Linked DNA regions of Homo sapiens: regions 1 and 2 are each linked to region 3. The links come from fine-mapping of genetic effects on gene expression. A gene starts in region 3. Each other region holds a variant in brackets. All regions are shown on one strand. Distances are from middle to middle.

Evidence for each region. PIP is the estimated chance that this variant, and not a neighbour inherited with it, causes the effect.
Region 1: its variant is the best candidate, but not a certain one, in a credible set for the expression of LYPD8 in whole blood (GTEx, PIP 0.70).
Region 2: its variant is the best candidate, but not a certain one, in a credible set for the expression of LYPD8 in whole blood (TOPMed, PIP 0.72).

The regions. Positions count from the first base shown.
Region 1 is chr1:248,715,462-248,719,703 of GRCh38, forward strand. No RefSeq gene overlaps it. Among named protein-coding and RNA genes, the nearest start is that of OR14I1, 15 kb to the left of the region's middle. The variant C/G (reference allele first, on the strand shown) is at 1,800.
Region 2 is chr1:248,792,201-248,796,442 of GRCh38, forward strand. No RefSeq gene overlaps it. Among named protein-coding and RNA genes, the nearest start is that of SH3BP5L, 32 kb to the right of the region's middle. RefSeq lists a silencer at 1,375-1,464. The variant C/A (reference allele first, on the strand shown) is at 2,243.
Region 3 is chr1:248,754,039-248,758,280 of GRCh38, forward strand. LYPD8 (LY6/PLAUR domain containing 8) reads right to left here and starts at 1,721. Exons shown (of 7, transcript NM_001085474.2): 1 at 1,667-1,721; 2 at 1,201-1,348.

The sequences.
Region 1 (4,242 bases), 39 kb before region 3:
TTTATAGATTGTTTATAAAATTTTGAGAAACAAATTTAATTGGCTTAATGTTGTTTTTATTAGGGCTTACTGTTTGGGAAATTGAGTCTCCTCTCTCAAAGAATGAAGATTTTCACCTTTTTTTGAAATCCTTGAGTTATCACTTTGGTCAAATGAATGACTTATTTTACAATGACCTGTAATGTCAAATGTTTTAAATCTTTGATATTTGACAAACTTTCCAAAATAAAGATATAAATTATGTCTTTTTCTGACTTAATCCTTTAAGATATTAGGTTCCTTAAAGTTCAAAAATGACATAATTTGCTTATTTGGAATAAACGTTTTGTATATATATATATTATATATATATTATATAAGCATTATATATATAAATAAAATATATGAAACATTGTCAAATATAAAATGGTGTTTAAATTTCTTTGGCCTATGTTTGTAGAAATATGTTATTGGTATGTATTCCAAAATTATGGGAAACTCCTGTAATTCTCATATGAATTAGTGTACATTATTAGTAATAATTATAATTATGTTAAATTATCATGTGCCACAAAGGTAACAACTTTCCCTGTCTATTGACTATGACTATGACTATAGTCTTTGACTATGGTTGCCCTAAAACATTTTGTCATCCATGGACAATTGTCTTGTTTTGGTCCTCTTTAAAAGGTAGTTTTCTAATCAGCTATAAAATTCTAACAGGTACTCTTGAATACAAGTTTCTGATAACTTTGGATATTGTGACATTGGAATAGAAGAAAAACTTTTAGGACTTATGGAGAACTGAAATGTTCATGACTATCAAGCAGAACAGGAATTAACTACATGGGGTGAACTAATAGAAGACTAAAGTAATCTTTTTCACTTATGCTTAAAATGTTTCTGATTCTTTGTTTTGTTTTTTCGGTGGCAAATAAACTTTTCTTTTGAGCTACTGACAGCTTTTAACAATTTAATATACTCCTATGAACAAAATTTAGAATATATTTGTTTCTCTCTACCTGATTTATCCAGAATTTGAAAACTATTTGTGAGTATCTTTAACTCATGTCAATACAGTTATTTGCATAAGTTCAATAAGAATCTGTTTTTATTTATAACAGGGCACAATAAGGGAAACTGGTTATTTTATGAAGGCTTTGGCTGGAATGGTGTGCTTTCCTTTAAGGAATCAAACTTGACTTATGGAGCCAATAAAAGCTACTTGGGAAAACTGGCCTCATACCTTGTCTACACAGTCCCTGTACAGGATTCCTGATGTGTGGTAAGTAAAGCATGTCACTTTCTGACAGGCCCAGGAGCCCCAAGTTTATCTTGGAATCTCAAGAGTAAAAGAATTCACCCAACTCATAGGTACTTGATGCTACAAACCCATGGCTGGGCTTGGCTTTAAAAAAGTCTTATTTGAGACTCCTTCTATAGAACAAAGTTCCATCAAAGCCAATTTAAAAGCCTGTGTAAAAAAATTATTCTTTCTGCACTTTATACACATAATTAGGCCAAGTATAATAAAGCAAATTAATCCTACCATGATTTGTCTTTAGTAAAAGTGGGAAACTGGAGAGAGAAAAATTCTATTTCAAAAACTATAGTACAACTGTTGTTAGAGTCTAGTCTTGCCTAATGTTTTTCCATTTTTATTATTTTCTACAATTAGGACTGAATTCTAATGTTTCTGGGCTATAAGTCTTCAAAATGTTTTCAGTTTTTTTTCTTCTTTTTCCCCCATTTTTCCTAATTTGGAGTCATTGAAAACTAAGCTGTACTTTCATAAAGCCCTGTGAACTGAAGCTAGACAA[C/G]TTAAACTTTAGAAGAAAATAACAGCAACCTATTTACATACATAACCCACTTTCATACCTGCCTACTAACATATAGACTTCAGAGTAATGTGGTCTATATCAATTCTCCAGGATTGTTCTTTTGTTATTGTTGCTTTTCTCCCTTTCTCTCCCTATTTTCCCTTCATAGAACATGAGACTTCACAATCTGCCAAAAATGAATTTTCCTAATAACTCAGGACCTACCCATCTAGGAATAAACCATCCTAGCCATGAGAGATCAGATAAAACCTGAGGACAAAGACTAATTTTCTTCTAATATGCTTTCTCCAAAAGATTTTGAGAAATAAAAAGGAGAAAATGTGAAAGGAAAATAAATCTTGAGGCTGCAAAATCACTAAGCTAAAGAGAAAAGTAAAGCTGAGAACTGCTTAGGGCAAACCTGCCTTCCATTCAATTCAAAGTCACCCTCTGCTCACTGAGATAAATGCATATCAGATTGCCTCCTTTTAAGAGGCTAATCAGAAACTCAAAAGAATGCAACCATTTGTCTCTTATCTGCCTATGACCTGGAGGGTCCCTCCCTGATTTGAGATGTCCCGCCTTTTCAGACCAAACCAATGTTTCATCTTACATATGCTGAATGATGTCTCATGTCTCCCTAAAATGTATAAAACCAAACTGTGCCACCTTGGGCACATGTTGTCAGGACCTCCTGAGGCTGTGTCATGGGTATGCATCCTCAACTGTGGCAAAATAAACTTCACTTTCATCACTGTAAAGATTAAGCAGAAAGTCAACAAAAAAAAATCAGATCTAAACTACACCATAGACCAAATGCACCTAACAGACATTAACAGAACTTTTTATCCAACATCTGCAAAATACACATTCTTCTCAGCACATAGAACATTCTCCAGGATAGACCACAGGTTAGGCCACAAAAAAAAAAAACTCAATACTTTTTAAAAATCAAAACCATATCAAGTATCTTCTCAGATCACAAAGGAATAAAACTAGAAATCAACATAAAAAAAATTTTTGGAATCTGTAAAAACACATCAAAAAAGTAAAAAGATTTCAATTAAACAATCTAACAATTCACCGCAAGGAACTAGAAAAGGAAGAACCAACCAATCCAAATATGAGTAGTAGGAAATAAATAATAAGGATCAGAGTAGAACTAAACAAAATAGAGACAAAAACAAACAATACAACAAAATAAAACATTTATTTTTTTGAAATAACAAAATCAACAAGCCATTTTCTAGAGTAACTAAGAAAGAAAAGAGACTGGGCATATTGACTCATGCCTGTAATCCCAGCATTTTGGGAGGCCAAAGTGAAAGGATTGCTTGAAGCCAGGATTTCAAGACCAGCTTAGGCAGTAAAGTGAGACATCCAACTTTGCAAAAACAATTTTTAATCAGCAAGACATAGTGGCTCATGCCTCTAGTCCCAGCTATTCAGGAGGCTGAGGTGGGAGGATCCTTTGAGCCTAGGGGTTCAAGGCTGCAGTGAGAGATGATTGAACCACTACACTCCAGAACGACAGTGAGACCCCATCTCTAAAAAAAAAAGAAAAGAAATAGAAGAACCAAGTAAATAAAAACAGAAACAAAAAAGAGACATTACAACTGATACCATAGAACTACAAATGATCATTGGAGACTATTATGAACAACTACATGCCAACAAATTGAAAGGCCTAGAAGAAATGGATAGATTTTTGGACACATGTAAGCTTCCAAAATTTAACCATGATGAAACAGGAAGCTAGAACAGACTGACAATAAGTAATGAGATCAAAGCAGTAATTAAAAGTTTTCCATCAAGGCTGAAGTGGGAGGATCGCTTGAGCCCAGAAGTTCAAGGCTGCCAGGAGCTACAATCATGCCACTGCATTCCAGCCTGGATGACAGAGCAAGATCCTGTCTCTATTTTCTAAAAAAGAAATCCCATCAAAGAACTCAGGACTGAATGGCTTCACTGTTCAATTCTACCAAATTTTAAGGAAAAACTGATGCAATTCTTCTCCAACTATTTCAAAAAACTGATGAGAAAAAAATCTTTACTAACTCATTCTACGAAGTCAGCATTACACTGATACCAAAACCAGAAAAGGACACACACATACACACACACACACACACCAAAGAAAACTACAGGCTGATATCCATCATACAGGAATGGATCAACATATGCAAATCAATAAATGTGATATATCACATCAACAGAATGAAAAACAACCCATATGATCATCTCAATAAACACAGAAAAAACATCTGATAAAATTCAACATTTCTTCATGATAAAAACTCTAAACAAATATGATACAGAAGGAACACACCCCAATACAATGTCTATATATGACAAATCAACAACTAACATGATATTGAACAGGAAAAAGCTTTTTCTCTAAGAACTGGAACAAGACAAGAATACCCACTTTCACCATTCTTAT
Region 2 (4,242 bases), 38 kb after region 3:
CTCCCAGTCAGGGGACAAACTTCTGTCAACCTACATTGACAGAGAGGGAGACTCTCTAACGAAAATGATGTTTATTTAGGAATAGAATTGCAATGGGAATATATGTGCCATAGAAAACTATGTGTGTATTCAGGGAGGTAACAGAAGACAGTGGTTTTTAAAGGAAAAATAAGGAGGATTACATAATTGTTTTGAGATAACTGTCCTTGGCTATAAGAATCAAATAATAAAGGTGGTGCCAGTCTGAGGTTGGACAAGCAGTTGCTGGGCAGATGTCCTCGCAGAATTATATTTTTGTGTAAGGCTGTGATGGTCTTTGTGCAAGGCTGTGGTTTTTGCAGAGCTTTTTGTGATAGTTCCTGTTATCAGGCATTCGTGCGTGAGAACCCTCTGTTCACGGCCTTTTCTGGCTCTTTTTGTCGGAGCTTTGTTAACAAGGGACTTGTTTTGATTCTGATAACTTTCACACTTTCTGGAGCAGAAAGTTAGCATGTCTCATCCTACCCCCAGTTTCTTCCTACTGAAGATAATAAATTCCAGGTGAGTATGGCTGACAAGTGAAGACTCCCTTCTTCCTTGCCTCTCCTAGTCATGGGATACAGGCTCGACCTTGAGAATACTGCACATACTGCAAATACTGAGGCCCCAATCACCACTGCCCTAGTTCACTGGCAGCAGTCCCATGCCAATAAAGGCCAACCTGAGAAATTCTAGGGCTGCTGCACACCATTCTACCAAGTGCTCAGCTCCTAAAGTAGAGGCGTCACTCAGGAGAAGCATGCCATTTTCTCCAGAGCCATGGCTCAGAGATTTTACCCAGGGGCAGAAGCAGGCATAGAACAGAGAGCTCCAGCTTTCTACTCAAAGGAACAGACCTCACTTATAACTGAGTCTGAAGTTCAAGTCTAAGAGTCCTCTAAATATAGGGGGAATAAAACAGTGGCGGTTGCGGTGAAAGGCGATTGGGAAGCAATTAGTAGATTCATTGACGATTGCTATGGACTGAATGCTTGTGTTCCCCCAAAATTCATATGTTGAAATTATAACCCCCAATGTGATGATATTAGGAGATGGGGCCTTCGGAAGGTCATTAGATCATGAGGGTGGAGCCCTCATGAATGGAATTAGTGACCTTATAAAAGGGACCCCAGAGAGCTCTCTCACCTTCTTTCCACCATGTGAAGATACAATGAGAAGTCAACAGTCTGCAACCTGAAGAGGGCCTTCACCAGAACCTGACCATGCTGGCATCCTGATCTTGGACTTTCAGTGTCCAGAACCGTGAGAAATAAATTTCTTTTGTCTATAAGCCACCTAGTTTATAATATTTTGTAATAGCACACCAAGCTGACTAAGACAGAAATATAGGCTAAACTGTAGGCCGGCTGGTTTGCCAGAGAGAAACAAGACACCAGACAACTACAAAGAGCCCTCCTGGAGTCAGAACATGTTTCAGTGACTTTGGTAACTGTCCCTACAAAGGAGCCTGAATTTGATTAGCTAAGCCTATAGGGCAATGGATGCCCAGAGCATTGTTGAAAACAGCTGAGCAATCAGCCTGCAATTAGAGAGCTTAACAGCTGAGTAAGTTCAGGAATAGATAGTCAAAAAGAAATCTGCCAAAACCACCATCATCCCACAATGACTGTGGGCATACCAAAGGTTGTGTCCTGTGAGGAGCAACATTAGAGGCTTAGAGGCTTCCCACTGCAGGGGGTGGGGAAGAATGAGTGTGGTAGTGGGAGAATAGGCTTCAGGAAAATAATCCAGCTAATCACTACACAAATAAGCAGGCAAATAACAATAACAAGCCCACCTGAGGTGGCGGGCACACCCGGAGTTGCTTCAGTACGTGATCTAAAATGTCCAGTTTCCAACAAACGTTATGAGACATGCAAAGAAACAGAAAATATGGCCCATAAACTAAAGAAAAATCAGGAAACAGAAACTGCCTCTATGAATGATATATTAGTCAGGATTGTCCAGGAAAACAGAATCAACAGGATGTTTAGAGACAGAGAGAGAGAGAGAGAGAGAGAGAGAGAGGTTCATTTTAAAGGATTTCTTCATGCAGTTGTGGGGGCTTGGCAAGTTCAAATGTGCAGAGTAGGCTGGCAGGGCTGAAAATCCAGGGAAGACTTGTAATTTGAGTCCAAAGGCAGTCTTCTGGCAAAAGTCTTCCTTCTTCCAAGGAGGTTAGTCTTTTTCTATAAAGGCTTTCCACTGATTTGAGGAGGCCCAC[C/A]CATATCATAATGGGTAATCTGCTGTACTCAGTCTACAGATTTAAATATTAGTCTCATCCAATATATAACTTCACAGAAATTTCTAGAATAATATTTGACAAAATATTTGGATACCGTGTGGCCTAAGTTGACACATAAAATTCACCTTCACAAGTTACCAGATGTCAGATTTAACAAAGTTTCATGGCTCACACCTGTAATCCCAACACTTTGGGGGGCCAAGGAGAGTGGATCACCTGAGGTCAGGAGTTCGAGAACAGTCTGGCCAACATGAAGAAACCCCGTCTCTATTAAAAATACAAAATTTAGCCAGGCGTGGTGGCCCATGCCTGTAATCCCAGCTACTCAGGAGACTGAAGCAGGAGAATTGCTTGAACCCAGGAGGCAGAGGTTGTGGTAAGCCGAGATCACACCATTGTACTCCAGCTTGGGAAAAGATTGCGAAACTCCATCTCAAAAAAAAAAAAAAAAGTCTTCAAAGTAGTTCAAAGAACTAAAGGAAACTTGATTAAACAACTAAAGGAAGGTATGATGATAATATCACATCAGATAGAGAATATCAATAGATAGAAATTATTTTTTAAATGTAAATTCTGGAGTTGAAAAGTACAATAGCTGAAATAAAAAATTTAGCAGAGTTCAACATTGGACTTGAATTTGCAGAAGAAAGAACAAACTTGAAGATTGACTGATAGAGATTTTACAATCTTAATAACTGGCAGAATAAAGGATATAAAAATGAACAGAGCAACAGGGGGGAAGTCCCAAAAGAAAAAAAGAGAGAGAGAAGGAAGAGAAAGAAGCAGCAAAAAATATTCAAAGAAATAATGACTAAAAACTTCCTAAATTTATTGAAAAACATTACATATACAGGAAACTCTCTCAACAAACTGTCTCTTACTTGGGTTTCCAAACTGCTGGTCTACCCTACACATTTTGGACTTTGGAATATTATTACAAATTTTTTTAAAAATCAATAGTTTGGAGCTCTTTGCAGAATGTTTATGATGGGTAGCCTGCAAAAACTTCACCCTAAGATTTCCTCTAACTTTAATTGGTAGATGTTAGAAAACGTTACTTAAATACTATTAGAAGTTTTCTGCATCAGCAAACCTGAGACTTCTTTGTTCTGTGACAGCTGCTACAATGGTTGCTTCAGGGAAAATGAGTAAAGAAACTCTCATTGAGTGGTCCCCTTCTCCTATTAGGGTGGCACTGTGTGAGTTGGTGAGAGGGCCTTTCTCACTGCCTTTTCCCAGAATTTCTCTGTAAGCTAATGACCAGGTATCTAAGCAGGAGTTTCCCTTGTAAAGCAATGGGCATAGAAGGTCACTACATGTGACTGGCTTTAAGGGCAGAGAGCTTGCTGGGGAAGGTGGAGGAGAAAACAGAATGTGACAAGGGGTCTTCTGTGGGGGCATATGTTAAGTTCTACATCCTATACCCCAGGAGTAGCCAATGTATCAGAAGCTGCATGTCAAAGTCTGGAGTTTCACTGATGAGTGACTCTGCTTTACTGATACCAGGGTGTCATTGCGTCTAAACCCTCTCAGCTTACTGATCAAGGAGATATATGAGTGTGCATTAACACTTATGTATACACATATTTATAAATATTTGTATATGTAACTCTCTATCCATATTAAGCTAAACATTAATTCATACCACTGTCTCCAATTTTAATCCATTAACATGTGAGTCCTTCTAGCCCCCTCCCCTTGTTTATCTGTAACCTGGCTTTCACTATCTGCCATCCATTTACTTAATTGTTGAATTCTAGCATACATGTATAGCAGTATCAGAATTGTTACCTCCATGGGAAACAACTTTATTTACTGGAGTTCAGTGCTTATGAACAGTTTCTTTTGCCTTTTGTCTTACAGATTCTACTAATTTCCAAATTTGCTTAGGGGTCAGGTGCAGTGACTCACACCTGTAATCCCAGCACTTTGAGAGGCCAAGGCGGGAGGATTGCTTGAGCCCAGGAATTTGAGACCAG
Region 3 (4,242 bases):
TCACATGTCACAAACACCACACAGCACACCCCACACCACACACATACACCACATACACAAATACCACACCACACACCACACATACACCACACCACACACACTTCACACACACCACACATCACATGTCACACACATTAGGTACACACCGAACACACACAACACACATTAAATGCCACATACAACACACCACACACATTAAACACACACCCCACACATAAGTCACACACATCACACACACAACACACCATGCGCTAAATACATCACACATACTACACACATGCAAATCACATCACAGACACCACATACGCACCACACCACATACCACACACACGACACATCACATGCCACACATCACCTGTCACACACATCAAACACACACACAATACACCACACACCTCACACACGTCAAACAAACCCCACACACACCATATCACACACACATCACACACACCACACATGCACCATATGCCTCCACACACAGAGACACATACACATCACACACCCTCACACACACACACCCCACATGCCATTTATACCACATGCCACAAACATTACATGCACACAAACCATATACACAATACACAAACCACACACAAACACCACACACCCTACCCTGATACCCTGGTTGACTTATTAGAGATTGGTAAAAAGGAAGGGAAACCAGTCGGTCTGGGAGAAGAGGCCCATACATGATGCCAATGACCCCACCATTTAGAGATCCAAGGAGGAAAATAAAGCACATCTGGTCTGGAGCTTGTAGCAGACGTGCGCCAGCCCCTCACCCCTCCAGGCCCGGTGCACCCCTACATGCCCGGGTGCACCCCTCCAGGCCTGGAACCCCAGCTGCTTGCTTTTCTCCTCAGTGGGAAAAGAGTTTCAGGGCCATGGCCTTCTGGGAAAGGGCCTCTCAGGTCTTACAGTGTGATGGAGGAGGGGAAAGGAGAGGATGAGATGAGATGAGAAGGAGACCCCAGCAGCCCATCAAGTGCACAGATCACCTCAGCCTATGGTGAAGACCTGAAACTAGCCTCATTTTCAGGGAGAATTGATGGAGGCCCAGAGAGGTCAGGACTTGACCCAGGGNCACCTAGCAGAGAAACAGAGCCTGGGAGTGACCCCATAGCAGGACCCAGGGCCGTGCTCAACACCTCTGTGGGTAAGAGGGACCAGTGAAGCTGGGGCTCAAGGCAGGGCCCCCACCTGGGACATGAGAAGAAGTGGCATCTTAGGCCGTTTCACTAGGTACTTCCCACTGGCAAAGTTTTATTGCGGAATCTTTTCGACAGCCTGGCAGGGTCCTGCTATAATTGCTGTCATCTTCCACAGAGAAAGCTGGAGCCTAGAGAGGCTGTGAGGACACAAAACCACACAGAATGAAGAATGTCACACACAGAATGATGCACAGAACACGCACACACTACACACAAACCACACACACAGTAGCAGATGGCAAAACAACAAGAAAACTACATCCCCAGCCCACATCCTCCCTGAACTCCAGACTTCCCTCTCCTGAGCATACGACTGCCTAGGGCAATGCCAAAGGAGCAAGAGCCGCAAGAATGTCCTGGACTTGGCCGGGGAAGGACCTGAGCTGGTCCTGAATGCCCTTCCTGCGGTTTCAGCTTCTCCCAGGGCTCAGGCCCCGGCCTCGCAGTCCTCTCACCTTCTGGATCTGGCCTGGTGACTGTCCTACAGAAGGTGGTTCCCAGTAGAGGCTTAGGGCTGGTATGGGAGAGGCCTTATATAGCAGGTGGCTGTAAAATCAAAAAGCACAGCTGTCTTCTGGGGTGGGACCTCTGGGTCAGACAGGCTAAGGCTTCTGGCTCTCAGACTGTGCCCTGCCCAATAGAGCTACAGGCTGCCCAACCCTTTGGCATCTGTGCAGCTCGTGCCCTCTCTGAGACCTCTAGGAATTGGGAACAACTTTGGTCAAGGCCTGCCTTTGGCAAAATGTAAACAGGAGTAAGGTATCTTCCAGCATTGTCTGTGGCCTTCTAAGTCAATTCCATGACCTGCTAATGACAAGCACCTAACAACCTGCTAACAGTCACCATGATTAGCCCATTTATAGATGAGAAAACCAAAGCACAGAAAGAGAGCCATAAGAGATATGCTCATGGGCACACAGCCGGGGCACAGTCAGAACTCAGAGCTCCGAATCAGACTATGTGGGGTCTGTGCAACTCAGGAAAGGGCCTCAGTTTCCCACAGGCAAGTGTCTTAACCTTGTTAGATTTGAGGGTCCTCCAACCAAGATGAGTGTAAACTCACTGTGCAGCCTCATAGTGTGGTAGAGGGACCATGACGTGAAGCCCCTGCCTGCAGTGTGCTCTGCACACTGGGTGAGAGCCCACAGCAGCCATCGAGAGAGTCTTTCTGGCCAAGTGATCTGAGCAGCTACTGGTAACAGCCCAGGTCAGGTCAACTGAGGCCTCTCTGTATTAGTCAGGTTCTCTGTCCTCTAGAGAAGGTGAGTTTATATATGTATGAAGGGGAGTTCATTAAGGAGTATTGACTCACATGATCACAGGGTGAAGTCCCACAATAGGCTGTCTGTGACCTGAAGACCAAGGAAGCCAGTCTGAGTCCCAAAACCTCAAAAGTGCAGCCTTCAGTCTGTGGCTGATGGCCTGAGAGCCCCTGGCAAACCACTGGTGTAGGCCCAAGAGTCCCAAAGCCGAAGAACTTGGAGTCCGATGTTTGAGGGAAGGAAGCATCCAGCATGGGAGAAAGATGGAGACTGGGAGACTCAGCCAGTCTGGTCCTTCCTCGTTCTGCTGCCTGCTTTTATCCTAGCTGTGTTGGCAGTTGATTAGATGATGTCCACCCAGATGTAGGCTGGGAGGCTAGGCCAGTCTAGCCTTTTGACATTTTTCTGCCTGCTTTATATTCTAGCAGAGCTGGCAGCTGATCAGATGGTGCCCACCCAGACTGAGGGTGGCTCTGCCTCTGCCAGTCCACGGACTCGAGTGTTAATCTCCTTTGGCAACACCCTCACAGACACATCCAGGAACAATACTTTGCAATACTTTTCAATCCAATCATGTTGACACTCAATATTAACCCTCACACTCTCCCAGTCTCCTCACACTGTGCCATGGGTGCTCCTGGTTTTGAGTGTGGACTTGAGTTATCTTCCCTCCTCATCTTTCCACTGTGCTGACACTTTATACACACACGGTGGGGAGTGGGAGGAGCCCACTCAGCCGAGGATGCAGAGGTTGAGGGGCACACATCATACCAGTATCCCCCAGCCTGCATTTAAACCTTGCAGTTCCCTGCTCTTGAAAATACCCCTTGGGGATGGCTACGCTACCTGTGTCTCAGCTCTCTCTTCCTTCCCCAAACTCATGCATTCATTCAACAAACATTTTTTGAGCACCCTCCCTGTCTTAGGCCTACTGTAGGAAACCGGGAGGTATTTGTGAGCAAAAAGACAAAGACCTTTGCCCTCCTGGAGTGTAGTCTAGAGAGGACTACAGACAACATAAATTAAAGTGGTAAATAAGCAAATCACAGGGAAAGTCAGAATGTGGTGACTGCTCTGGCAAAAAGACAAAGAGTAGGATAAGTCATCAACCATGCTAGGGGGTGAGCAGGTGCAGGCTTCCACTTTCAATGAGGAGGTTGTAGTAGGTCTCATGGAGAAGACAAAATCTGAGTTATTTTTATAAGCAGAGACTCTGGCCATCTCTTATTCTCTCCTCTCCTCACCATCTGCCTTCAGGCTGCTTATCACAGCATTTTCCTAAAAAAAAAAAAAAGCAGCTTCCTCCCTAACAGAACCATATTGTTTCCCAGCACACATTAGTCAGTCACCTGGCAGGGCACAACAAGAGAAGTGGCACAGTAATATCCAATGGGGTGTGTGTGGGCTTGCGGGTTTCAGGAATGTGGCCTCCCTGAGCCACCGATGGAGGATCCAAAGAGCTCATGAACACTGCCTCTGAGATAACAGCTCTGGTGTCAGGCTGAGTACTGGCATGAGAAAATCGGGCTGATCAATGTTAATTCCTCTCAGAAGGCACCAGATACTCAGGCAAATGGACCCAAAGCGACCACAAAGATCTGAGTCTGAATCCAGACTTTGTCCCTCACATCACATAAGTTACTTATTAACCGCACTTGTTGGGCCAGAGCTCTTTGTCTTTAAAATGGAATCATCAGGCCCTGAAGAAATGCCTCCTGATGATTTATTTACTCCTGGAATCATCACCCCATTCCTCTGTGTTTTTCCAA